Linked DNA regions of Homo sapiens: regions 2 and 3 are each linked to region 1. The links come from fine-mapping of genetic effects on gene expression. A gene starts in region 1. Each other region holds a variant in brackets. All regions are shown on one strand. Distances are from middle to middle. Region 1 holds the start of TMEM121B (transmembrane protein 121B). Region 2 overlaps IL17RA (interleukin 17 receptor A). Region 3 overlaps ADA2 (adenosine deaminase 2).

The links. PIP is the estimated chance that this variant, and not a neighbour inherited with it, causes the effect.
Region 2: its variant is the best candidate, but not a certain one, in a credible set for the expression of TMEM121B in whole blood (INTERVAL, PIP 0.79).
Region 3: its variant is the best candidate, but not a certain one, in a credible set for the expression of TMEM121B in cerebellar hemisphere (GTEx, PIP 0.88).

The regions. Positions count from the first base shown.
Region 1 is chr22:17,116,653-17,127,463 of GRCh38, reverse strand. TMEM121B (transmembrane protein 121B) reads left to right here and starts at 6,104. Exons shown (of 1, transcript NM_031890.4): 1 at 6,104-10,811. The coding sequence starts at 6,337. The coding sequence ends at 8,073. LINC01664 (long intergenic non-protein coding RNA 1664) reads right to left here and starts at 5,869. Exons shown (of 4, transcript NR_103793.1): 1 at 5,425-5,869; 2 at 2,693-2,809. RefSeq lists an enhancer at 5,146-5,677 and a silencer at 6,263-6,392.
Region 2 is chr22:17,095,362-17,100,361 of GRCh38, reverse strand. It overlaps IL17RA (interleukin 17 receptor A), which reads right to left. Exons shown (of 13, transcript NM_014339.7): 2 at 3,276-3,300; 3 at 2,419-2,565; 4 at 1,475-1,587; 5 at 1-7. Among named protein-coding and RNA genes, the nearest start is that of IL17RA, 13 kb to the right of the region's middle. The variant T/G (reference allele first, on the strand shown) is at 2,239.
Region 3 is chr22:17,176,488-17,187,298 of GRCh38, reverse strand. ADA2 (adenosine deaminase 2) reads left to right here. Exons shown (of 10, transcript NM_001282225.2): 8 at 4,538-4,695; 9 at 5,277-5,479; 10 at 5,723-8,509. The coding sequence ends at 5,816. Among named protein-coding and RNA genes, the nearest start is that of HDHD5-AS1, 23 kb to the right of the region's middle. The variant C/A (reference allele first, on the strand shown) is at 5,062.

The DNA of each region.
Region 1 (10,811 bases):
TTTAATTTTTTATAGAGACAACGTCTTGCTATGTTACCCAGGCTGATCTCAAACTACTAGCCTCAAGTGACCCTCCTGCCTTAGCCTCCCAAAGTGCTGGAATGACAAGCCACTGTGCTCAGCCAATTTATTAAGTTGGATGTTTACCTTATTAAATGTTCAATTTTCTCCTTTGTAACACAAACATTTAAAGCTATAAATGTTCTTCTTCTGCTTTGGCTATGTCCCATCCATTTTGACAGGTGGTATTTTCATGTTCATTTAGTTCTAAATATTTTCTAATTTTTGGATGATTCATTTGGAAGTATGTCTTTACACTTCCAAATATGTGGGGGGTGGTTGGTCGTTGTTTTGTTATTTTATTCTAATCTAATTGTTGTGAGGTCAAAGGATTGGTCTGTACATGGTCAGGCTTTGTAAATGTTGCATGTAAAATTGTAAACAATGTGTAGTATCTAGTTTTGGAGGTACAGAGCTCTAAATTCAGCCATTTAGATCAAGCTTGTTAATGATATGGTTCAACTTGTATACATCTGTACCAATGTTTTATCTGTGTGAACTATCAATTACTGAGAGATGTGTTTATATTTCTTACTATCATTAGGTTATTTGCCAGTGTCTCATAAATATTACCCATTTTTATTTATATATTTTAGGGCAATGTTATTGAATACACACACATTCAGAACTATGGTCTTTCTGGAACTTGGTCCTTTTACAGCAGCAAATATGTATATAGCACTTTGTGCTGAGCACTTTCTATCTATTAATTCATTTACTCCTCATAACAACTCTGTGAAGTGGGTACTATTATTTTCCCCATTTTCTAGTGGGAAAATCAAGGAAAGAGAGATTAAGTAATTTGCCTAAGGTCACTCAGCTTCTAAATGGTGGAGTCAGCCAGGCGCGGTGGCTCATGCCTGTAATCCCCGCACTTTGGGAGGCCGAGGTGGGCAGATCACCTGAGGTCAGGAGTTCAAGAACAGCCTGGCCAACATGGTGAAACTCTGTCTCTACTAAAAATACAAAAAAAAATTAGCTGGGTGTGGTGACGGGCGCCTATAATCCCAGCTACTTGGGAGGCTGAGACAGGAGAATTGCTTGAACCTGGGAGGAAGAGGTTGCAGTGAGCCGAGATCGTGCCACTGCACTCGAGCCTGGGTGACAAAGTGAGGCTCCGTCTCCAAAAAATAAAAAAAATAAATAAAAATAAAATAAAACTAAATGGTGGAGTCAGGGTTTGAATCCAGGTAGTCTGGCTATAGAGTATGTGCCCTTCACTACTATGGTGTACTGTCTTCTATCATTACATAGTGAACTTCTTTATCCCTAAGAATATTCTTTGTCATATAGTTTATTTTTTTGGTATTAATATTGCCAAACCCACTTTTTAAAGTTGATATTTGCCTAGTTTAATTATATACATGCATTAAATTATATTTGTGTATTTTTTCTTCAGCCCTTTTTTACTTTGTTTGTCTTTATATTTTAGGGATGTTTCTCTTTTTCTTTTATTTATTTATTTTTGAGACAGGGTCTTGCTCTGTCACCCAGGCTGGGGTGCAATGGCGTGATCATAGCTCACTGCAACCTCCAACTCCTGGGCTCAAGGGATCCTCCCACTTCAGCCTTCTGACTAGCTGGGACTACAGGCATGTATCACTACACCTGGCTAATTAAAAACGATTTTTTGAAGGCCGGGCATGGTGGCTCACGCCTGTAATCCCAGCACTTTGGGAGGCCGAGGTGGGAGGATCACCTGAGGTCAGGAGTTCGAGATCAGCCTGACCAACATGGAGAAACCCCGTCTCTACTAAAATTACAAAATTAGCTGGGTGTGTTGGCGCATGCCTGTAATCCCAGCTACTCGGGAGGCTGAGGCAGAAGAATCGCTTGAACCTGGGAGGAGGAGGTTGTGGTGAGCTGAGATCTCACCATTGCCCTCCAGCCTGGGCAACGAGAGTGAAACTCCATTAAAAAAAACAAAAACAAAAACAAAACCTGCGTCCCTCAAAAAAAAAAATGGTTTTTTTTTTTTTTGGTAGAAATGGCATCTCATTTTGTTGCCCAGTCTGGGCTTGAGGGTTCCTTCTGCCTCAGTCTCCCAAAGTGCTAGGATTACAGGCGTGAACCACCATGCCAGGCCATGGGATATTTCTTATAAAAGCCTATAACTGGACATTTAAAAAAAATCCATCTGATCATGTGTCGTTTAATATGACATCTATTGTGATTACTGATTATTTAGCTTTATTTCTACCATCCACTGCATTCTGACTTCTGTTATTTCTGATGAGAAGTCTGCCATTAATCTAATTGTTGTTTGTTGTAAGTAATTTTTTTTTTACTGTTTGATTTCTCTTAAGATCTTTTTCTTGTCTAGAGTTCTACAATTTTACTTGAAAACATCTCGGAGCATGTTTATTTTTATTCATCCTGTTTAGGATTCATTGCAATTCCTAAATCTGTGGGTTGGAGAAGTTCTTTCACCAATTTTGGAAAATTCTCAGTTCAAATTTCTGTATTGTCCTTCCCTTATTGTTTTATATTCTCCTTCTGGAGCTTCTGTTAGACATATTTTGGATATTCCAATCTATCTCTCATGTCTCTTGTCTCCTAGATATTTTCAGTCTCTAGCTCTCTGTACTACATTCTAGAGAATGTCTTCATATATATTGTTAAATTTACTCACTTCAGTTGTGTCTAATTTGCTGTTGAGCTCATCCATTAATTTTTCAGTGACTATACAGCAGTCTCTCCCATTTGCAGTTTCACTTTTCATGGTTTCAGTTCCATGGTAAAGCACTGTCTGAAAATATTAAGATATTTTGAGATAGAGAGGCACCACATTCACATACACTTTTATTATAATATATTGTTATAATTGTTCTATTATTAGTTACTATTCTTAATCTCTTATGGTACCTAATTTATAAATTAAACTTTATCATAGGTATGTATAGGAAAATAAACATAGTATATGTATATCTTCAGTTTCAGGCATCCACTGGAGGTCTTGGAATGAATCCCTCATGGATAAAGGGAGGACTACTATATACTTGAAATCTAAAGGTTTCTTTTCTTTTCTTTGAGACAGGGTCTTGCTCTGTCACCCAAGCTGGAGTACAGTGGCATGATCATAGCTCATTGTAACTTCGAACTCCTGGCCTCAAATGACCCTCCCACTTTAGCCTCCTGGGTGGCTAGGAGTCACAGGCACATGCCACCACGTCTGGCTACTTAAAAAAAAAATTATTTTTATGGCCAGGTGTGGTGGCTCATGCCTGTAATCCCAGCACTTTGGGAGGCTGAGGCGTGCAGATCACCTGAGGTCGGGAGTTCGGGACCAGCCTGACCAACATGGAGAAACCCTGTCTCTACTAAAAATACAAAAATGAGCCAGGTGTGGTGGCGGGCGCCTGTATTCCCAGCTACTTGGGAGGCTGAGGCATGAGAATCGCTTGAACCCGGGAGGCGGAGGTTGCAGTGAGCCGAGATCGCACCACTGCACTACAGCCTGGGGGATAGAGCAAGATTCTGTCTTGAAAAAAAAAATTATTTTTAGAGATGAGGTCTTGCTATCTTGCCCAGGCTGATCTCAAATGTGCCCGGCCAGGTTTTTTGTTTGTTTGTTTATTTTTGGGCACCTCAGGTAGGACTGAAGTGTTTGTTTGTTTGCTTTCCCCCCAGACGGAGTATTGGTGAAACACCATATTGATCAGGCTGGTCTTGAACTCCTGACCTCACCCTGCCCCACATGGGTGGACCCTGGCCCCAACTGGCACCCTGAATGTCTCACACTGTGAGCCTGAGAAGACCGGCTCCAAGAATCAGTGCTCCTAACCATGGCAGCTTTGTTCCTGGGCACTTACCAAAGTGCAACGCTACTGGGGAGCAGAACTCAAGAGTCCAGGCAGAAAACAGCCATTGGTGGCCCCTGCTATGAGTCGATGTTCCCTGGGAGGCTAAGGCATGGGCTAATGGAATGATGATAACACAGAGACCTTTAACTGAGCATGGACTCTGAGCCAGGGACTGGCTCTGTCATCGAAGAGAGATTACACACATGATCTCTCTTCATACTCACAACAATCCCTTAAGGTAGGAGTGAGGTCCTTTTTTTTTTTTTTTTGAGATGGAGTTTTATTCTTGTTGCCCAGGCAGGAGTGCAATGGCACAATCTTGGCTCACTGCAACCTCTGCCTCCCGGGTTCAAGCGATTCTCCTGCCTCAGCCTCCCGAGTAGCTGGGATTACAGGTGCGTGCCACCACCCCTGGCTAATTTTCGTATTATTAGTAGAGGCGGAGTTTCACTGTGTTGGCCAGGCTGGTCTCAAACTCCTGACCTCAGGTGATCTGCCCGCCTCTGCCTCCCAAATTGCTGGGATTATCACCATGCCCGGCTAGTTTTGTACTTTTAGTGGAGATGGGGTTTCTCCATGTTGGTCAGGCTGGTCTCAAACTCCCGACCTCAGGTGATCCGCCCGCCTCGGCCTCCCAAAGTGCTGGGATTACAGGCGTGAGCCACCGCGCCCGGCTGGGGTGGGGTCCTGTTTACAGATCAACATTCTGAGGTGAAATATTCAGGCTAAGACCACAAAGGTGTTAAGTGGCACAGGTGGGATGGCGGCCCCAGAGCTCCTGCCCTCACCACCATGCCAGCTTTCCAAAAGTGGTGTGTGTGGGGGAGGTGGAGATGGTGCAGGTTCTAAATTGTATATTTACCAGGGATTGGCTGTGCAGACTGACCTCCACGGAACTGGAAAAGGCAGGTTTGGCTGAAACGGACTCTTATTTAAGAGGCAGATTTAGGGGCGAGGCCTGACTAACCCCTGCGGCTCCACTGCATACAGCTCCCTCACACTGCATGGTGTTATCACGCTGCAAGCTGTTACCTAGGGGAGATGAGCCCGCAGCAGCAGCTTCAAAGGTCATGAAATCAGGGAGCCCACAGGCCCCACAAGGGTGCAGAGGCCAATAGGGCAGGCAAGCTTTCTGCCTTGTTTTCATGGGGCTGGGAATGGGATGTTTCCATTATTGGTGAACCTCAGATTGTTTTTGAGCCCCAACTGCTCTAGTCATTTCCTTCTCCCTTAAACCCCTAAAGGCAGCACTCTACCTTCTGCCTTCCAGAGTTGCTGCATCGACATCCATCCCCAGCCTTGGATGAGTCCTGGGGTGAGCTGGTGTGCTCTCTCCTGAGACTGTCTACGCAGGGCCACTGACTGCATTCCTTCCTTGGTGTCTCTGTCTACTGTGGTGGGCTGTAACCCTCACCATCATCCCTTTGGAGCCTTTGTTTTCATCCAGGTGCCCACACCTCTAAATGCCCCTTTATTTTACTCTCTGCTAGACACATCTTCCTATTACGTCCCATTCTGCTTTAAAAACCTTTGAGAAGCCCGCTGGGCGGATGCCACTTGCCCAATCTCGTTCCCTCGTCTCTCCTCCCAGGCAGGTGTTTTCAGGGAACTTCTCCATCCGCTGGAATCGGGTCGTCCCTGAGATGGCTCGCGACCCCAGGGCTGGGTACATGGATATTTAGGACTATAGGTCTGGGGCTGCTGCCCGAGCCCTTTTTGCCAACATGGCCTGACTCCTCCACTGGTTTTTAGTGCCTTAGGGAGAGGCGGATGGCCCCATGGGAAGGGCGCTGGACGGAGGGTGGAGGCGAAGCTGCCCACTGCCTGCCTCAGAGCTGAGAAGGCCAGGTGCAAAGCCCGCCCTGTAGCTTGAGCCCATCGCTTGGGGGCACCGAAGCCATCTAGGTACTAACGCCCTGCGGTACAGCCGGTGGGATTCCCAGCGACTTCCTTAGGAGTCCGCGCTCCATGGGAGTCCCCCCGCACCGGGTCGCCTCGCCCTGGCGGCTGCCCGCGCCTCCTCCCGCTTCCTCCAGGCCACAGGGCTCCCGACCCGACTGTGACGCACTGCACCCCCGCCCCTTCTCTTCCCGTTGATCCAGCGCGCCGCGCTTTCTCCTCCTCTGGTCTCGCTGCTTCCTCTCCCCCTCGAATCCAGTCCTGGTTTCCCCGCCGCCAGCCTCCCTCCCTCCCGGCGGGACTCGCTCCCCGCCCCGCCCCGCCCCGCCCCCGCCTCGCCTGTCTTCACCGCGGTCCGCTCGGTTCACCGCCTGCCCCCTCTCCCTGCCGCCCGGCCCGGCTCGCCCAGTCCAGTGGCTCCAGTCCGGATCTCGCCGCCGCCCGGCCCAGGTGCGAGTCCCCACTGCTGGGGAGGCGGCGGGCCCCGGCTCCCCTCGGCCGCCTAGCCCGCCTCGCCCGCCCGGGGTTGGCGGGGAGGGAACAGCTGGGCGGCCCCAGAGCCCCTCGGAGGACAATGCGCCCGGCGCTCGGCCACCCTCGCTCGGTCTCCTCCGCGTCCGGTTCCTTCCCGCCGCCCCCGGCAGCCGCCCGGCTGCAGCCCCTCTTCCTCCGCGGGGGCTCCTTCCGCGGCCGGAGAGGCTCCGGCGACAGCAGCACCAGCACCAGCACCAGCCGCGGGGGAGGCGGCGGCAGACGCGGCGGGGGCGGCGGCTCCCCGAGCAGCAGCACGGGCGCCGAGCGCGAGGACGACGACGAGAGCCTCAGCGTCAGCAAGCCGCTGGTGCCCAACGCCGCGCTCCTGGGGCCGCCGGCTCAGGTGGGCGCCCCCGCCGGCCCCGCGCCTGTCGCCTTCTCCTCCTCAGCGGCCACCTCCTCCTCCACCTCCACGCCCACCTCCTCCTGCAGCATGACAGCCGCGGACTTCGGCGGGGGCGCCGCGGCCGGGGCCGTCGGGGGCCCCGGGAGCCGCTCGGCGGGGGGCGCGGGCGGCACCGGGACCGGCAGCGGCGCCTCCTGCTGCCCGTGTTGCTGCTGCTGCGGCTGCCCAGACCGCCCCGGCCGCAGAGGTCGGCGCCGCGGCTGCGCCCCCAGTCCCAGGTGCCGCTGGGGCTACCAGGCGCTGTCCGTGGTGCTGCTGCTGGCGCAGGGCGGCCTGCTGGACCTGTACCTCATCGCCGTCACCGACCTGTACTGGTGCTCCTGGATCGCCACTGACCTGGTGGTGGTGGTGGGCTGGGCCATCTTCTTCGCCAAGAACAGCCGGGGCCGTCGGGGCGGCGCAGCCAGCGGCGCGCACAACCACCACCTGCACCACCACCACGCCGCGCCGCCCCTGCATCTGCCCGCCCCCTCGGCCGCTACCGCTGGGGCCAAGGCACGCGGAGCCCGCGGGGGCGCCGGCGGCGCGGGGGGCGGCCTGGGGGCGGCCGCGGCAGCGGGCGAGTTCGCCTTCGCCTACCTGGCCTGGCTTATCTACTCCATCGCCTTCACTCCCAAGGTGGTGCTGATCCTGGGCACGTCCATCCTAGACCTCATCGAGCTACGCGCGCCCTTCGGCACCACGGGCTTCCGTCTCACCATGGCGCTGTCGGTGCCCCTGCTCTACAGCTTGGTGCGGGCCATCAGCGAGGCGGGCGCGCCCCCGGGATCGGCAGGACCCCTGCTGCTGCAGCCCCAGCGGCACCGCGCGGCCGGATGCTTCCTGGGCACGTGCTTGGACCTGCTCGACAGCTTCACGCTGGTGGAGCTGATGCTGGAGGGCCGCGTGCCGCTGCCCGCGCACCTGCGCTACCTGCTTATCGCCGTCTACTTCCTCACCCTCGCCTCGCCGGTGCTCTGGCTCTACGAGCTCAACGCCGCGGCCGCAGCGGCTGCATCCTGGGGCCAGGCCTCCGGGCCTGGCAGCTGCAGCCGCCTTCTGCGCCTGCTGGGCGGCTGCCTGGTGGACGTGCCCTTGCTGGCGCTGCGCTGCCTCCTGGTGGTCAGCTACCAGCAGCCCCTCTCCATCTTCATGCTCAAGAACCTCTTCTTCCTCGGCTGCCGGGGCCTGGAGGCCCTGGAGGGCTGCTGGGACCGGGGCAATCGGGCCTCCCCGAGTCGGGCCAGAGGGGGCTACGGTGCTCCGCCCTCCGCCCCTCCACCACCTCCGCCACCACCTCAGGGAGGCTCCCAGCTGGGCCACTGCATCTCGGAGAACGAGGGGGGTGCTCATGGCTATGTCAACACCCTGGCTGTGGCCTCTCAGAATTGAGGGTGAAGGGCACGGGTCCTTGTTTTTGGGTTGAGAGTCCCCAACCCCCTTGTCTTCTACCTTCTGTCACCTAGATTTGATCAGGGTCTATTTGGAAGAGGTAACCCTTTTCAGGGCTAAGGGCCAGGGTGTTCTTCTGCACCCTGGGGTGAGGACGGCTTGGAGGGAGACCAGCAGTTAACGGTGAGGGAGGTAGGTGCACTTACCCTCTCCTCTCTTCTCCTATCCTACCCCAATCCTGACCTCCAAGGGGCTGGTACCTCTGCTTCTTGCTTTGCCCACCTCCACTCTAATTCCCATCCATTAGGAGGAGAGGGGTGCTGGGCCTTGGACCTTCTCCCTTGCTTAGAAGTGCCAGCCTCTTTTAGGCTGTGGTTAGTGGCCATTGTCCCATGCCTTGAAATTGACCCAGAACCCACTTTCCACTGATGTGTCTCTTGGATTTCTTCCAGGTGATAGATACAAAGTGTATGTCTCTGTGTGTGTAGTGTTGTTTTCTCGTGTCCACCCTGTGGCCCTTTGCAATGGGTAGGAGATCTGGGGAGGCCCTGCCCCCTACACCATACTTATCACCACCCTCCTCTTTTCTGCCTGGATTTGTGACCATGAATTCCCAGGAAGAGCTGGGCCCCTGGGAGCTGCCCAGGTACTCCCCTTGAAGGGAGAATCTCACCCAGGATCTTCCTCAATACTGCTCCTCTCTTCTCAGCTCAGGGAGAGGAGGGGATCCATTCTCTAAGGACCAAACTGCACCCTTTCTTGGGTGAGTGAGCATTTCTACCTCCGTGCTTTCAACTTTTGTTGCATCATGCACTGATGCTGCTTGCAAAAAATGAAGACAAAATACTCAGAAGTTGCATTTGCCATGGCCACTGGCTCCAGCTGGGGTTTGGTGCCAGTGTTATTACAGGGTCTGCGGAGTATCAGCCATTGGCTTGGCCTCTCTCTGTTCCTCCCTCTGCACCTAGAACTCTTATCCTTCCTGTGGTTTGGTGCCGACTGGGTCGGATCTGGGCTTAGAGTAATAGCTTTGGTGGGTTTCCTGGATGGATGTGAAGTTGGGCCTCCCATGGGCCCAAGGGAGTAGGAAGCCCCATTCCCCACCTGTCCTTCCTCTAGGAAGTGTAGATCAGAAAGTGAGGTGGTGACCTCCCACCTCTGGTCTGGTTAAGAGTCTCACTAGGGCCAAGGCAGGCTGCAGAACTTTCCCTCTTCCTCTCATTGAGGGTGATGACAAGAGACATCCGGGGACTGTGCACTTACAGTCGGTGTGGAATGTCACTCTTGCAGTCTTTGAGGCAGGATAAGTATTTTTACATATTTTAAGGGTGCAGGAGGACAGCAGCTAACAAGGCCAGGAAATACTCACTTCCCTCCACCCTCAACAGGATGTGGTGGGGGTGAAACTTGAAGAATTTTTGTTTCCCCTTCTCCCTTCTTACGTTTGGGAAGTTTTATGTAGTGTAACAAACTCTAGACGAGTTACCAGAAGATGTGGATTCTAGTTCTGATTCTGTCACTCATTGGCTTTGAGTGACATATTTTTATTTCCTGGGCCTGTTTTCTCACATTAAAAAAGTAGAAGTTAGATGAGTGATCTCTAAGGTTGAAGGTAATTTCAGCTCTCACATTCTTTTGAGTTTGTGGCTCTTGAAAGCCCTGGTCCTGATGCTCCCTGTAAAGGTGGCTGGGAGAGAAGCCAGCCAGGCTGCACTTGCAGAACATTCCCTGCTCTGTACTGGGTGTGTGAAGCCCCAGCAGAGAAGGCCGGAGGGAGGGCTTGGGTGCCTGGGCTGGGTGTGGGGCAGGGCCTGGCACAGCTGCAGAGTGCACAGGGAGGGTCAGAAGTGCCAAGTCACTGGCCGTTAACTCAGCACCCAGGCCAAGCCCCCGCCTCCCACTTGAAGCCCCCTCTTACAACTGTTTTGGGGGCTTGGAGCAGAAGACACCCTTGTAGACAGACATAAGAGGGGCAGAAGGCTTGACCAGAGTTCTCTTGAGCCTCCTCATGCTCTCAGAGCAGGGAACAGCGGGGGAAAATGTTTACACTCCATGCACAATCTGTGCTTCCAGTCCCTCACCCTATGTGGCCCAATAGCTGGCTGGATTTCACACTTAATTGGTATTTTTTTCTGCCTTCTTCCCCTGCCCCCACTGACTCCTCTCCTCTCCCTTTGATTGTACTCAAGGTTCTGGGGCCTGGGCCCTGGGTGGGTACCAACAGCTGCTCGCTGTTCCCATGTCCTCTCTCCAGCTTTGCTGTGTTTCTCTGCTACCTAATCTCAGTGACTGTGAAAGGACATTGTGTCTGAGCCATGGCCAGCCGCTGGCTGGCCCCCTGATCTGCCCCCCTTCTATTGTTTGGATGGCCATCTCCTGCTGGGCCTCCCTGACTGTAAAATCTCTGTACTGTTTGTTAGGTTTTTGGTGGGAGGCTGTGATAAGTTCCAATGAGCTGCCACTTCCCTGGATATGTCAAGAAGCTGATGGCAACTTGGCCAATTCTGGCAGATATCAGGCCCCCAGTTCAGCCCCAGTCACCCTCTTTTACACATGTGGGTCAACCACTGTGTGCTCAGAGGGTCAGTCCCTTCCTCTGCTGTGTTTTTCTTGAGTCCTTGCACTCACTTCCCCTGCCCCAGTCACGATGACCCCTAAAGCTTCCTTTGCCCTTGCTTTCTAGGGCATCCCTAGTGAAGGGGCAAACCTGAGATTTCTCCGTGGACCTGACAGCCAAG
Region 2 (5,000 bases), 24 kb after region 1:
AACGCCACTGAAGAGAAGGGAGGAAGGGAAGGTGGATGGATTACACACACCTCTGTCACCCATCTATGCCCAAAGACCCCCGTTCCCACCCACTCCCGAATATTCAGCCAAAAATAAGAACAAAGCAACAACCACAGCAAAATCCAAGGTCAGGGAAATCAGTATCTTTGTTTTTTGTTTCCTCTGGTCCTTTCTGCCTGTTTTTTTTTTTTTTTTTTTTAAACCTGGATCTGGCCTCATCAGTAGACAGTGAATAAGGCAAAAGAATTTGGGGAAAGTGGAAGTAGTCCCACCCCTCCCACCTGCCCTCTCAAATTCTAGGACAATGGGTATGAGAGGGCGGAGCCAGGGGACTTGGGGCTATGGAGATCTGGCACACGCCAGGCAGGTAAAAACTATTTGTCAAATGATTCTTCCTCCTCAAACGGAAAAGCCAGGAACCTCTTGAGACCATTATGGAGTAAAAAGGTGCAAAGGACAAGCTAGAGACCCCCACTCACCCTGGGCCAGCAGGCACCTCAGTTGCAATGATATTTGAATTTGTGCTAAGTTATTTTCTGGGTGTTAGAGATTACAGACATCGACTCCAACCCCCATTCTAGTTACCCTGGTGGAGGGGCCGGGGTCCTTTGCTTCTAAGTGGACGGAGGAACCTGGTTCTCACCATTCGCATAGCAGTCAAGTTTGGGGGTCCTAATTTAACATCGGAGAGGGGTTCTGCCTTTGCTGCTTGAGTTTGTGGGAGATCTAACTTGTTTTCAAGTGACCATTTGCAGATTTAAACCAGTAGTCTTCAAACTAAGGCTCGCATCGTGATGACTTAAGGGTTAAGCACCAGTTGCTGGACCCCACCCTAAGAGTTTCTGGCCTGGGAAGTCTGGGGTGGGGCCAAACATCTCTACCACGTTCCCAGGTGAGGCTGAGGCTGCTGGTCTACGGACCACACTTTGAGACCCACTGCTTTAAACAAACTTAAACAAGAATCAACATTTCACCATTTAGCTGTGAGCAGCAAAATGAGACTAAGCTGTTGTAGTGCTCATTTGCCCACCTACAGCAGTTCTTTGGTCTGGGCGGTTTTTTCTTCCTGAAGGTAGGCCCCAGCTGAATCCAAGTTACACATAAAAGATGTTACACAAAGTTACACAAAGATGGCAGGAGGTAGGGCTGTGGAAGCTGCCTTCCAATTCAACTTCCTTTCCGAACGAATAGCTAGGTAAAGTGGGAAGAAAAACCAGGGGTGAGCAGGTGAGGGACGCTTTCAAAAATACGCTCTGTCCCTCACTATTGCTCACGGCGGCCACACCACTTCTCTTTTGACTTCTGCCCATCTCAGGCTGCCATTCTGAATTCCACAGACTCCCTCAGCACCTCTGGGTCTCCCCCACTCTAAATCAGGGTCTGAATTTGGGGACAAGAAGTCTGTACTGGTGTCATCAGTGGAACATAATCCACTCAGGAGCTGTGTTCTTACCCGCCTGTGGTGATGCCTCAGTTTGGACAGAAACTCAAACCTGACGCACAAACGTTCATTGGTGTTCAGCTGCAGGACAGATAACTCTGCACCCTCGAGGTACAGGATGCTGGCTGCAGGAGAGGGAGAAGAGAAGACAAACAGATGCAGATCAGCCAAGACAAGTGCTGGGTGTGTCACTTCCCTATCTGTTGCGGTTGTTCACTCCTAAAAGAAAATCTGCCGTCTTACCCAACTCTCCACATCCTGTTCCTTTCAGTTCACTCTCTGGCCTCAGCCTACCGCCTTGCAGACAGTTATTTCCCAGCTGGGCAAGGAAAAATGACACTTTACACTGGGCTAGAAGTAAAGGCTTTGCAAACTTGTGGTGAGGGCTTTGACAATCTGGCATGGGTGTCAAACACAGCCATCCCCACCATCCTCACGAGGTTGTGGCTGTCAGCAGGAGCACTGAGGGCGGGGACTTCCAAAAAGAACTTCCCCCATGCCCCGTTCACAAATCTGGGGCTAGTGCTCATAAGCCCCAATCGTCCCAATTCTGTAACATAAACTCTCCATTCCTGAATAGGCTTGGGGGACGTTTTAAAAGTGCTGGCCCCTAAATTCAGGGAACAGGTTGACAAATGTGTTACCATTTTCCACTTCATTTTTGGTACTGTAGTCACAAAATTAACTGCTTGCTTTTTTTTCCCCTCAGGGTGCTAAAAATATTAGGTTGAAGGAAGTCCTTTCATGAAGAATGGTGTGATGAGAAGGTATCACTG[T/G]GGGTTAATATCTAAAATGCTGAACAAGTATTTGACTGCATGAAATGACGGATCCTTATAGCACTAAATTTGAACCCCCATGTCTGAGCACAGGACTGGGAGCCCAATCCTGAGCCTGACTGGGAGAGCCACTTGGAGGCAGGGAGAATCCCCCAGGGCCCTGCTGGCATGCCCACTCACCGTCTGTCTGCAGTGTCCATTCGATGTGAGCCACGGGGAACAGGTCTCCTTGTTGGGTGTGGGCAAAGTGCAGCTGGATCTGCAGGTCCTTTGGGGAGGAGGGGGTCAGGTTTCGAGGGTGAATCCAGCTGTCATCCAGGCAGGTACCTGGCAGCCAGGGAAAAGCAACATTCAGAGACTTATAGCCGAGACCCTGAGATGCCCCAGCAGCAGGTACAGACAGCTAGACAGCAAACAGCTCAGGGGCCCGCGGCCTTCCAGCCTGTGGCCCTTGGCCGCGTCCTCAGCTTTACTGCCCTGCTCCCTCTTCTCTAATGTTTACTGGGGTCACTGCAAACCTCTCAAGTCTAAAGGGAATTTTAGGAGAGAAGACAAAGTACACAAGTTGATTTTGAGAAGAAGTTGTGATTGGGAATAAGGGCACAGGAGGGATGCAGTTGTAGTAAGAGCTGCTTTATTGTTATATGTCAGGGGTCTCTAATTGGCTCAGACACTTGAATATGTGCCTCTTTGAATTAAAACAAAACAAAATCAACAGCACAGATGTCTCTCACTTTACAGTGACAAGCTGTGGCAAATCAAATTATATTATAGATACAGTAGGGCAGCTCCCCAGAGAATACTTTCACAATCCAAATGACAGTTCTGTTTCTCCTTTCCTGACTTTTGCATAATGAATGTTCTCGACAGGAAGCGCAGGTGCACGCATCCACAATTCTCCGGGAACCCTCCTGCGGATGGCTGTAGCTCACAGCCTGAACCTGGAGTGGCATGGCAAGACTTCTGTCAGAAGTTGGCAGCAGGCTCTCACTTGATTAAGAAGGCAACAAGAAGAAGAACAGAAAAAGATGACTTACTATTCTTGACCGTGCAGTTTAGCCCCTGTGGAAAAAAGAGGGTGGTTATTACAGCTGGGAAAAGGCTTGAATTCACATGCCAGGGCCAGATGCTCTCCACTGGCTCATTCTCAGGAATGCCATCTACACAGCCTGCCCTTCTCACTTTTTGGGGAATAGGATGAGGAGTGAGTCCAGGGGATGGCAAAGGGAATGGTGCTTTTTTTTTTTTTTTTTTGAGATGGAGTCTTGCTCTGTCGCCCAGGCTGGAGTGCAGTGGCGCGATCTCAGCTCACTGCAAGCTCCGCCTCCCGGGTTCACGCCATTCTCCTGCCTCGGCCTCCCAGGTAGCTGGGACTACAGGCGCCCGCCACCACGCCCGGCTACTTTTTTGTGTTTTTAGTAGAGACGGGATTTCACTGTGTTAGCCAGGATGATCTCGATCTCCTGACCTCGTGATCCGCCTGCCTCGGCCTCCCAAAGTGCTGGGATTACAAGCGTGAGCCACCGCGCCCGGCACAGGAATGGTATTTTATGAGGAACTGCTATGAGCTGGGACCTTGACAATTTTAAAAGACACTGAGAGGGTTCTCTTGGAGTGCCCTGAGAAAAGGGCCCCTTCATCTCCTAAGGTTTCCAACCTTCCTGGATAACACTGCTGCAAGAGGTGCGGAAGGGGTGAAGGGCAATATTTACAGTTTCTGTGACAGATCTGTTGGGGAACATTCACTAAGTCCCTACAAAGTCGCTAGGTAAAGTATGCCAGGCCCTGTTCCGGGTGATCGTGACGAGGTATTATCCTCAGCCCATTCTGCAGATGAGGAAGCTGAGGCACCCATGTTACATTATATTGCCTCCCTCTTGGGCAGTATGTGTTAACCTTCCAAGCCTGAGGAAATCCTGATGGCCAAATTTAGAAGCCCTAGTGACAAATGCTACCAGGGAAATGTAACCATTAGGAAGGAGCTCAGGCTCAGGTGTCTCCAGTTCTCTAACTGGCAAAACAGACCAAACGCATCCCGGGGTGGAAAGTCAGATGCTGAGGCAGACCAGAAACACAATCTCAAGGCCAACAAAGTGACTGGTGTGAGTAGGGTGCCAGGGCTGACACCCTCCTCTCTCTTGAGAGGGAACAGAGAGGTAGGGCTAAGCACAGGAGAAGACCCCGTGCCACCAGGGTTCATTTACAGAGTGGTCACACACAGGATGACATCTGCACGCACCTAGGATTGACTCTAGCAAGCTATTTCACCTGGACCCTCCTTCTCTGGGACCCCAGTTCATAAGTGCTTCTCGCCCTGTTCAGCTCCTGAATTCTCCCCTACAGGTCCCGGGCTAGCATCACCACCCCACTAGGGGGCTCCGCACATGTTCCCAACAAAATCCATCTGGCTGCCTAGGCTCACACTAATAAATGTCACTCTTTCCTAAATGGCGAGAAGATTAACTCCCCTGAGTCCTCTCATTTTTCCTCTCCCTTAAAATTCCTAGGATGTGGAGGATAAAAAAAAAGCGGTTATTTCACCTTGAGATGGGGAACTCTTCTAGAGAAGGCAAACAGATACATCATTTGGAGTAACTTCCTACTAGCCACTGGGAGCTACTCAATAACACTGCAGGATGATGCCCATGATGAAAAGCTCTTGTCTTCATGAAGACCACAAGGAAAGTGGAAGGGTCTGACAACACACTTGGTTGATTCCCAGTGGTGCAGGCAGGTGTCCTCTCATTCCCGAGATGGAGGGA
Region 3 (10,811 bases), 60 kb before region 1:
TCTGTAATTCTAGCACTTAGGGAGGCAGAGGCAGGAGGATCACTTGAGCCCAGGAGTTTGAGACCAGTCTGGGCAACATAGTAAGATTCCATTCTACACAAAAAGGAAAACAAATTTTTTTTTTTTTTTTTTGAGATGGAGTCTCGCTCTGTGGCCCAGGCTGGAGTGCAGTGGTATGATCTCGGCTCACTTGCAAGCTCGGCTTCCTGGGTTCATGCCATTCTCCTGCCTCAGCCTCCCAAGTAGCTGGGACTACAGGTGCCCGCCACCACGCCCGGCTAATTTTTTGTATTTTTAGTAGAGACGAGGTTTCACTGTGTTAGCCAGGATGGTCTCGATCGCCTGACCTTGTGATCCACCCGTCTAGGCCTCCCAAAGTGCTGGGATTACAGGTGTGAGCCACTGCACCTGGTCAATTTTTTTGTTTTTTGAGATGGAGTCTCACTCTGTCACCCAGGCTGGAGTGCAGTGGTGCGATCTTGGCTCACTGCAACCTCTGCCTCCCGGGTTCAAGTGATTCTTCTGCCTCAGCCTCTGGAGAAGCTGGGATTACGGGCATGCACCACCATGCCTAGCTAATTTTTGTATTTTTAGTAGAGATGGGGTTTCACCATGTTGGTTAGGCTGGTCTTGAACTCCTGACCTCAAGTGATCCACCCACCTCAGCCTCCCAAAATGCTGGGATTACAGGCTTGAGCCACGGAAAAAAATTCTTTTGAGACAGAGTCTTACTGTATCGCCCAGGCTGGAGTGCAGTGGTGCGATCTCGGCTCACTGCAACCTCTGGCTGCCAGGTTCAAGTGATTCTCGTGCCTCAGCCTCCCGAGTAGCTGGGATTACAGGCGCCCACCAACACACCCGGCTAATTTTTGTATTTTTAATAGGGATAGGGTTTCACCATGTTGGCCCAGGCTGGTCTTGAACTCCCAACCTCAAACAATCCACCCGCCTTGGCCTCCCAAAGTGCTGGGATTACCCGGCCTCATGTGATATTTTGATGCCTGTATATAATGTGTATGAATTGGAACACTTTCTGACGCTCTCCATCCTCCGAGTGAATTGTGCTTGAGAGGTTAACTGATCTGCCTAAAGCCACACAGCTGGAAATTGGCAGAAGAGGGAGGAGAACCAGGTCTGCTCCTTGTCTTTAGGATGTTCTGTCCCGCATTATCGTAGGAGAGGAAACCCTGCCCTGCCCCATGCAGGCCCTGGCTGCTGTTCCTCCTGAAACGCCATCAGCCCAGCCACATCTTTCTTTCCCAGAACTCCATCCTTGGGCTCGCTCAGTCATCTCAGCCCCTCCCGTATTCCAGTCCTTAAAATGTGTAAACCCTAACTAAGAAAGATCACGGCTGCAATTTCAGATCCAAAGGAAGATTTGGGAGGAGGCTGTTCACATGGAGGCCGGGACCAGGAGGGCAGCTCTCTTCAGCATCCCACCTGTCACCCTCGGAAGACCAAAGAGGGGTGGAGAGAGTGGTGGGCAATTTCATTTCCCACCCAGGCTTAAGCTCTGCTCTATCACACCTTCTCTCAGAGAAAGGGACCTTGTGCATTAATCTCTTTTTCCTGACATTTCGAGTCAATTTAGATCCAATTTAGATCAAAGTCTGCTCTAGGAGAGCAGAAGAATTGTTTGAGGGGGAGGGGGTTGGGCGAGGGTGTTGTTAACCTTGAAGAGCTTGTGGTCTGGTTGGGGAAAATCATACTTATGTGTGTGAAATAATTCTGGCCCTACAAAACATTGCAGCTCAGGACCTAACAGGTTCCAAGATGTATGGTCCTTGGAGATGATTTTGCCAGGACTTGGGTATCTAATACCTAAAAGTAATGTCCTTATTTTTATTTTTTTATTTTATTTTATTTTATTTTATTTTATTTTTTGAGACGGAGTCTCGCTCTGTCCCCAGGCTGGAGTGCAGTGGCACGATCTCAACTCACTGCAAGCTCCGCCTCCCAGGTTCACGCCATTCTCCTGCCTCAGCCTCCCGAGTAGCTGGGACTACTCGGGCGCCTGCCACCACGCCCGGCTAATATTTTTTGTATTTTTAGTAGAGACGGGGTTTCACCATGTTGGTCATGCTGGTCCGGAACTCCTAACCTCGTGATCCGCCCACCTCGGCCTCCCAAAGTGGTGGGATTACAGGTGTGAGCCACCACACCCGGCCAATATCCTTATTTTTAAAAAGAAAAAGAAATCTTTAAAAACCAGTGAAAATCCACCAAAACACATGTGCTACATAGCAATGGAAATTCTTGAGTTTTATTTCTATCAGGAAAGTGGAGTTTTCATATATATATATATATATATATATTTTGACATGGGCACTCTGTCACCCAGGCTAGAGTGCGGTGGTGTGATGACAGCTCACTACAGCCTCCACCTCTGTCACCCAGGCTAGAGTGTGGTGGCGTGATCACAGCTCACTACAGCCTCCACCTCCTGGGTTCAGGTTATCCTTCCACCTCAGCCTCCTAAGTAGCTGGGACTGCAGCCACATGCCACCATGCCTGGCTAATTTTTGTATTTTTTGTAGAGACAGGGTGTCTCTATGTTGCCCATGGCTGGCCTTGAACTCCTGGGCTCAAGCAATCCTCCTGCCTCAGCCTCCCAAAGTGCTGCGATTACAGGTGTGAGCCACCGCACCCAGCCAGATGTTCATATTTTATATGTGAATCCATTAGAATGCTTATGGCTGCAAGAATAGAGTACATGCATCCCACCGATTTTACAATAAGGACATTTGTTATCTCACGTAAGAAGCAATCTGTGCTATGCCCATTGTGTGGGTGATTCTGCCCCACTTGGTTGTCGGATGGTGAATCACATTTGGGGTGACCACATCCAGTGAAGCAAAATAGGAGACAGCCTCCCAGTGGATCCCCTTTTATCAGGGAGGAATCCCCCAAAGCTCCCCAACAAATAACCTCCCAGTCCAGCGTTAAGGCTATTTTAGCTGTAAGGGAGACTGAGAAAGGCACATCTGACCTTTCATCCTCTACCGAGGGCCCTAGCTGCAAGAAAGGTGTGATGGGGCCGGGCGTGGTGGCTCACGCCTGTAATCCCAGCACTTTGGGAGGCTGAGGCAGGTGGATCACAAGGTCAGGTGATCGAGACCATCCTGGCTAACACAGTGAAACCCTGTCTCTACTAAAAATACAAAAAAAAAAATCAGCTGGGTGTGGTGGCGGGCGCCTGTAGTCCCAGCTACTTGGGAGGCTGAGGCAGGAGAATGGCATGAACCCCGGGAAGTGGAGCTTGCAGTGAGCCGAGACTGCACCACTGCACTCCAGCCTGGGTGACAGAGCGAGACTCCATCTCAAAAAAAAAAAAAAAAAAAAAGAAAGGTGTGATGGGGATGGCAGGGGAGAAGGGAGGCCACAAGACTGTCTGCGGTCATCTAGCGAGTGATAACATCTTGACAGTACTATTAAATATATAAATTAAAGTGAGCACATACAGGTAGTTATACTGATGTTGTCAATAAGAGAACCTGTAACATATTGTTGTAAAGATCATAAGCATAAGAGTCCCAGAGCCCGGTGCGGTGGCTCATGCCTATAATCACAGCACTTTGGGAGGCCTAGGCGGGTGGATCCCCTGAGGTCAGGAGTTTGAGACCGGCCTGGCCGACATGGTGAAACCCCGTCTCTACTAAAAATACAAAAAATAGCCGGGCATGGTGGTGGGCACCTGTAATCCCAGCTACTCAGGAGGCTGAGGCAGGAGAATCCGCTTGAACCCGGGAGGCGGAGGTTGCAGTGAGCCAAGATTACGCCACTGCATTCCAGCCTGGGCGACAGAGCAAGACTCCGTCTCAAAAAAAAAAAAAAAAAAAAAAGAGTGCCACAAAAGAGGAAGAAGGAAAGCGGACTGTGGGGTCAGAGAGACGAAGGTTTAAAACTCAGTTTTGCAGGCCAGGTGCGGCGGCTCACGCCTGTAATCCCAGCACTTTGGGAGGCTGAGGCAGGTGGATCACGAGGTCAAGAAATCAAGACCATCCTGGCCAACATGGTGAAACCCTGTCTCTACTAAAAATACAAAAAATTATCTGGGCGTGGTGGCGTGTGCCCGTAGTCCCAGCTACTCAGGAGGCTGAGGCAGGAAAATTGTTTGAACCTGGGAGGTGGAGGTTGCAGTGAGCTGAGATCGTGCCACTGTACTCCAGCCTGGCGACAGAGCAAGACTGTGTCTCAAAAAACAACAACAACAACAACAAAAAACTCGGTTTTGCTACTTACTGTGTGAACATCCTTGGTCAATTTATAGAAGCTATTAAGTTTCAACTTTCTCATTAGAATGATAAATTAATAAATTAGATGATTAATTTAATAAAGCCATATCATACCTCTCTTTAGCATTGTTAAAAGGAAACTGTGTGTGTGTATTTGTGTTAATGTTAATTTCTCTTCATTTTTGTGCTTGGGGGGCTGTTTATTTGAGGATGGTCGGGGGGCGGGTGGGTCAGACCCATCCATCCCCCATGGAAGACCAGACCCATCCATCCCCCATGGAAGACCATTCCCGTGTGTTCAGACTGGCAGGGTACTTCCATAGACAGGAACATTCTGGATGCTCTGATGCTGAACACTACCAGAATCGGCCATGGATTTGCTTTGAGCAAACACCCCGCAGTCAGGACTTACTCCTGGAAAAAGGACATCCCCATAGAAGTCTGTCCCATCTCTAACCAGGTATGTGTGACCCATGTGGCTAATCCCATATGATCTCCCCTAACCACAACCTCTGCTCTCTTAAACTTTTTGCTGTATAACTTATCTCTCCTTAACTCTCTTGTTACCTACATCCCTCCACTCTCCTACCCCTGTTAGTAAAGTTATTCAGGAGGGGCCTTTTGCCTAAGCCACCAATAAGAATGAGGCAGCAGTGAGGGTCCCCAGTGGGGTGGAATTTTGGGCAAGACTGTAGACAAAGCAAAAAGGACATGGGGGGAGGCCAGTGAAGTGGGACGGACCATGGGATGCTGCTCCCCATGGTTTCTTGGGGTCCTTTGTGTCTGTGTTCAGTTAGCGCTTCTCTGAGCAGGAACAGAAGTGACC[C/A]GATGTTTGCAGTGCTGATGAAACATGAGGAGGAGCATAAGGACTGGCTCTGTTCCTTATGTCTCCTTGTGACTCTGCCCAGAAGTCATCCCCATACTGGGGAGATAGTGATGGGAAGATGAAGGGAGCTGATGGGGCTCAAGGTCTCACCTCACTTGTGACTACTCTTTTTAGGGATCAGAGTTCATCTTTCTCCCTTCCCTCCTATTGCGCAGGTGCTGAAACTGGTGTCTGACTTGAGGAACCACCCTGTAGCCACTCTGATGGCCACTGGGCACCCCATGGTGATCAGCTCTGATGACCCAGCTATGTTTGGTGCCAAAGGCTTGTCCTATGATTTCTATGAGGTCTTCATGGGCATTGGGGGGATGAAGGCTGACCTGAGGACCCTCAAACAGCTGGCCATGAACTCTATCAAGTGAGTGTCCTGTGTCCTCCCAGGTCCCCCGCCTCCTTCCAGCCCGCAGCTTGTGTTTGCCTCTCTGGAGGCTTGAGGCAGATGCCTCGATGGTTCCTGTGGGTTCCTTCTCATCATGGCTGTTTAGTCCTTGCTGCTGGCCTGGGGAGAGTGCTCTGCAAGGCTCTAATGTCCTCTCAGGCTCCCTGCCCCGTTCCCCAACCCCTGCCCTGAGGCTGACCTGGGCTCCTCCTCTTCCTGCAGGTACAGTACCCTGTTGGAGAGTGAGAAAAATACTTTCATGGAAATCTGGAAGAAGAGATGGGATAAGTTCATAGCAGATGTGGCTACAAAGTGAGGAGAAGCTAGCCAGCCCTCTACAAGCTGTCTTCTTGCACACGCTGTCACTTCCTCTCACTCGTTCTTGAATCAGCTCCATGTGCCCATGAAATCAATGGCCTCTGTATGGAGCGACCCTGTGAGAAGCACTTGGCTGGCTGAGCAAATTCATCCTCTGGAAATATTCTCTCTCAGCCACAGTGACATTGACCCTCTTGGTTTTCTCCTGTCTCTGGCCATTTCTTCCAGTTTCCCTATTTCAGAGTCTTCTCCTCTCTCTGATCTCTGTGCTGTTTCCTCAGGACTCAGTCCTGGGCTCTCTTCTATTCTGGTCTCTTTATTTTTTTATTTTTGTATTTTTTCGAGATGGAGTTTTGCTCTTGTTGCCCAGGCTGGAGTACAATGGTGCGATCTCAGCTCAGTGCAACCTCCGCCACCCGGGTTCAGGCAATTCTCTTGCATCAGCCTCGCGAGTAGTTGGAATTATAGGCATGTGCCACCACACCCAGCTGATTTTTGCATTTTTAGTAGAGACAGGTTTTCACCATGTTGGCGAGGCTGGTATCCAACTCTTGACCTCAGGTGATCCACTCGCCCCTTGGCTCCCAAAGTGCTGGAATTACAGGCATTAGCCACCATGCCTGGCCTATTCTGGTCTCTTTAACTCTCTCCTCTTTATTTCTCTTCTCTCTCTGTACACTTTTCCTGGGTGGTCTCATCCATTCCTTTGCTTTTTCATACCATTTATTTGTTAATGATTCCCACATTTATTTATGCACTTGGAGAGCTCACAGGAATCTCAGAAACTGATGAGGTACAATTCTGAACCCTCAGTCTCTTCCCTTTAAACCTTTCTTTTTCTCTACTTTAATTTTTCTAAAGAGTGTCTTGCTATGTTGCCCAGGCTGGTCTCCAACTCAAGTGATCCTCCTGCCGCAGTCTCCCGAAGTGCTGGGATTACTGACATGAGCCACCACACTCAGCCCTTTAAACCTTTCCCTGGCCTTTCCCATAGCTGGTGAAGGACACCTCCATCCATTCCACGCAGTTGCTCAAAGCAGAAATTTTCAGTGCAAGTCTTGATGCTGCGCCGTCCCCCACTCCCTACATCAGAACGCATCCCTCATCTGGACTCCAGCGGTGGCTTCTTGATGCTGCGCGGTCCCCCACTCCCTACATCAGAATGCATCCCGCATCCAGACTCCAGCGGTGGTGCTCTACCTGCACGCTGTTGCCAAGTCCAAGCTACCATACTCCTGCCTGAGCTATGACAACAGCCTCCTCACTGATCTCCCCTTTCTTCCCTTTGCCTCCTCCAGCTCATTTTTCACAGTGTAGAATGACATTTTGTTTGTTTGTTTTGTTTTGTTTGAGATGGAGTCTCGCTCTGTTGCCCAGGGTGGAGTGCAGCGGTGCGATCTCGGCTCACTGCAACCTCCACCTCCCGGGTTCAAGCGGATTCTCGTGCCTCAGCCTCCTGAGTAGCTGGGATTACAGGCATGCACCACCATGCCCGGATAATTTTTGTATTTTTAGTAGAGATGGGGTTTCACTATGTTGGCCAGGCTGGTCTCGAACACCTGACCTCGTGGTCCACCCGCCTCGGCCTCCCAAAGCACTGGGATTACAGGCGTGAGCCACCCGGCCTGGCCTAGAATGACTTTTAAAAGATCAAATTAAATCAGGTCACTCCTTTGCTTACAACGCAGTGCGTTTAGAGGTACACCCCATGTCTCCACAGGGCATACAGCATCCGATTTAATCTGGATCCATTCCGGCGCCTTCCTCTCCCAGTCACCCAGAGGGCCCCAACCCCGGCGGCCCTTTCTTCCTCAAATGTCCTCGGCTCTATACCGTGCCTGGGTCTTTTCTCTTTCTCTCTGCCTGGAAGATTCCTTCTTTCCCCTTTTGTCTTGCCCACTCCTGTTTACCCTTCAAGTTTCAAGTTCATGTCACTGTCTCAGAGAGGTTTTCCTGTGCTCGCCCTGTTTCTCTCAGGAAGCCTTGCTCTTTTCCATCATGCCTCTAATCACAGCTTATAATCGGATATTTATTTCTGTGTCTACAGTCTTGCCCTGCCAGACTGTATGCCCCATGTGGGCAGGCGCTCATGATTGTTTCTGATTGTTTCACGCATGCTGCTAACCCAGAGCCTGGGCCCAAAGCTAGTTAGTACTCAATAAACAATGCATTGAATGAGTGGCTGTCACTGTGTCTGTTCAGCCAGCTGCCAAGGCAGAGGGGAGTAGAGCAGAGCCGCCCCAAATAAAAGACCTCATGTGATCAGAGTCCAGCTCCTCACCTGGCCTTGGAAGAAGGATGCAAGAAGCCACCTCTGTCCTCACCCAACTCAAGGATGGCAGGGAATCAAAGAATTCCTCAAAAGCCCCAGGCGAATGTCCTCTCATCCATCTTCCATGACCTGTACCTGAGCTCTCAGACAGCAGCAAGCCCTCTCTCCATTCCTAGTTTATCACCATTTGGTTCCTGGAACTGGGAAAAAACAGCAACCATAAGCTGTGCCTGGATGGAAGAAGACAACCTCTAGGGTCCTGTCTAACTCTGCAGGTGATTCAGTGCCTTACCCAATCCCTGAAGATCTTTTAGGTCCCAACTGCGCAGGGGACCTCCAACACAGGCAGACGCAAACAGCCTCTGGCCTGGACTTGCTGTGATCTCTGATTTGGCAAAATGAACCAGCAATAGTCTTGCCTTTGTGCTTTGTGTCCAGTTCTTCCTTCTTTTTTTTTTTTTTTTTTTTTTTTTGAGACAGAGTGTCTGTTGCCCAGGCTGGAGGGCAGTGGCGCGACCTTGGCTAACTGCAACCTCTGCCTCCCGGGTTCAAGCAATTCTTCTGCCTCAGCCTCTCGAGTAGCTGGGTTTACAGGCACCTGCCATCACGCCTGGCTAATTTTTGTATTTTTAGTAGAGACGGGGTTTCACTGTGTTGGCTAGGCTGGTCTTGAACTCCTGACCTCATGATCTGCCCGCCTCGGCCTCCCAAAGTGCTGGGATTACAGGTGTGAGCTGCCACACCCGGCCTTTTTTTTTTTTTTTTTTTTTTTTGGAGACAGTGTCTCACTATGTTGCTCAGGCTGATCAACTGATCTCAAACTATGGCCTCAAGTTATCCTCCTGCCTCAGCCTCCTGGATACCTGGGATTACAGGCACTAGCCACCACATCCAGTCTTTAAGCTTTTAAATTCAACTTACAAAGCTTGTTAGTTCTTCCTTCTTGACTTTATTCCTCATTGCATAGGCCTAGTCCTATTGAACTAAATGTCCATGGAGCATTTATCTGATCATTTTGAAATAATTTCAAAAAGTTGCAAGAATAGTACAAAAAACTCTTACCAGGCCAGGCACAGGGGGTCACGCCTGTCATCCCAGCACTTTGAGAGGCCGAGGCGAGTGGATTGCTTGAGCCCAGGAGTTTGAGACCAGCTTGGGCAACATGGCCAGACCTCATCTCTACTAAAAATACAAAAATTAGCTGGGCATGGTGGGGTGTGCCTGTGGTCCTAGCTATTCAGAAGGCTGAGGTGGGAGGATTGCTTGAGCCCAGGAAGAGGAGGTTGTAGTGAACTGAGATCACACCACTCCACTCCAGCCTGGCCAATAAAGCGAGACCCTGTCTCAAAAAAACAAACAAAAATAACAACAACAACAACACAAACCTCTAACATTCTCTTTGCCCAGGTTCCCCCAGTTATTAACATTTTACAACATTTGATTCCATATATCATTCTTTCTCTGTTTCTAATTGCTCTCTCTATATATCCTATTTTTTTTAACCACTCGAGACTAAGTTGCAGATATTATGCCTTTTATTCCTAGATTCTCCAGTGCACATTTCCTAAAGACAGTGACATTCTCCTATGGAGCCACAGTACATCCAATCAAATCAGAAAAGTATTAACATTGAAAAGACGCTAGTATCTGGCTCTGGCCCTGCTGAGCTTTGTTTTGTTTTGTTCTTGGTCCAGAACCCAATCCAGGATCACAAGTTACATTTAGCTGTCAACTCTCTAGTCTCTTTCAGTCTGAAATAGCTTCTTAGTCTTCCTTTGTGTTTTGGAACCTCATTTTTGAAGAGTACAGGCCAGTTACTTCATAGACTATCCCTCATTTCAGGTTCATCTAATGTTTCCCTAGGAAGAGGCTCAGGGGATACCTTTTTGAGAGGAGCACCTTGGCAGCGAGGCTTTGTCCTTCTCAGTGTACACACCAGGGGCACATGAATGGGGCCAAGTGTTATACTTCCAGCTTGTTGTTAAACCTTTAGGAGTCTGGAATTGGTCTTGATGGGAATTTTTTTTTTTTTTTTTTTGAGACAGGGGTCTCACTCCATTGCCTAGGCTAGAGTGCAGTGGCAGGATCGCTGTTCATTGTAGCCACTACCTCCTGGGCTCAAGCAATCCTCCTGCCCAGCATCCAAAGTAGTTGGGACTACAGGCGTGCACCGCCACCTCGGCTAAGTTTTCTTTCTTTTTACTTTTTGTAGAGATGGGATCATGCTATACTGTCTAGCCTGTCTCAAACTCCTGGCCTCAATCCATCCTCCCGCCTCGGCTTCCCAAAGTGCTGGGATTACAGGCATGAGCCACGACACCAGGCTTGTGGGAGTTTTTGTGCCACAAAAATCAGCAAATGTTACAAATCCATGTCCCCACCAGCCAGCTGTTACACATTTGCCAGCATACTGATGCATACAATGTTAATTTGTCTCAATATGATACTGACTTTGATCGCTTAAGTTGATTTCTGCCAGAATTTGCCATTGCGAAGTTACCATTTTTCCCTTAGTAATTAACACATATTTGGAGAGGAGACACTTTATGTAAAAGTCTTCACTCCTCCTTAAAACTTTACCCATTAGTGCTTGCATCCACTGAGGACTTTTGTCTAAATCTGCTATTACTATCATGGTTGCTGTTCCGTTTATTGCTGTGTAGCAAATTATCCCAAAACGTAGTGGTTTGAAACAAAAATAAAAATTTATGGGGCCAGGCG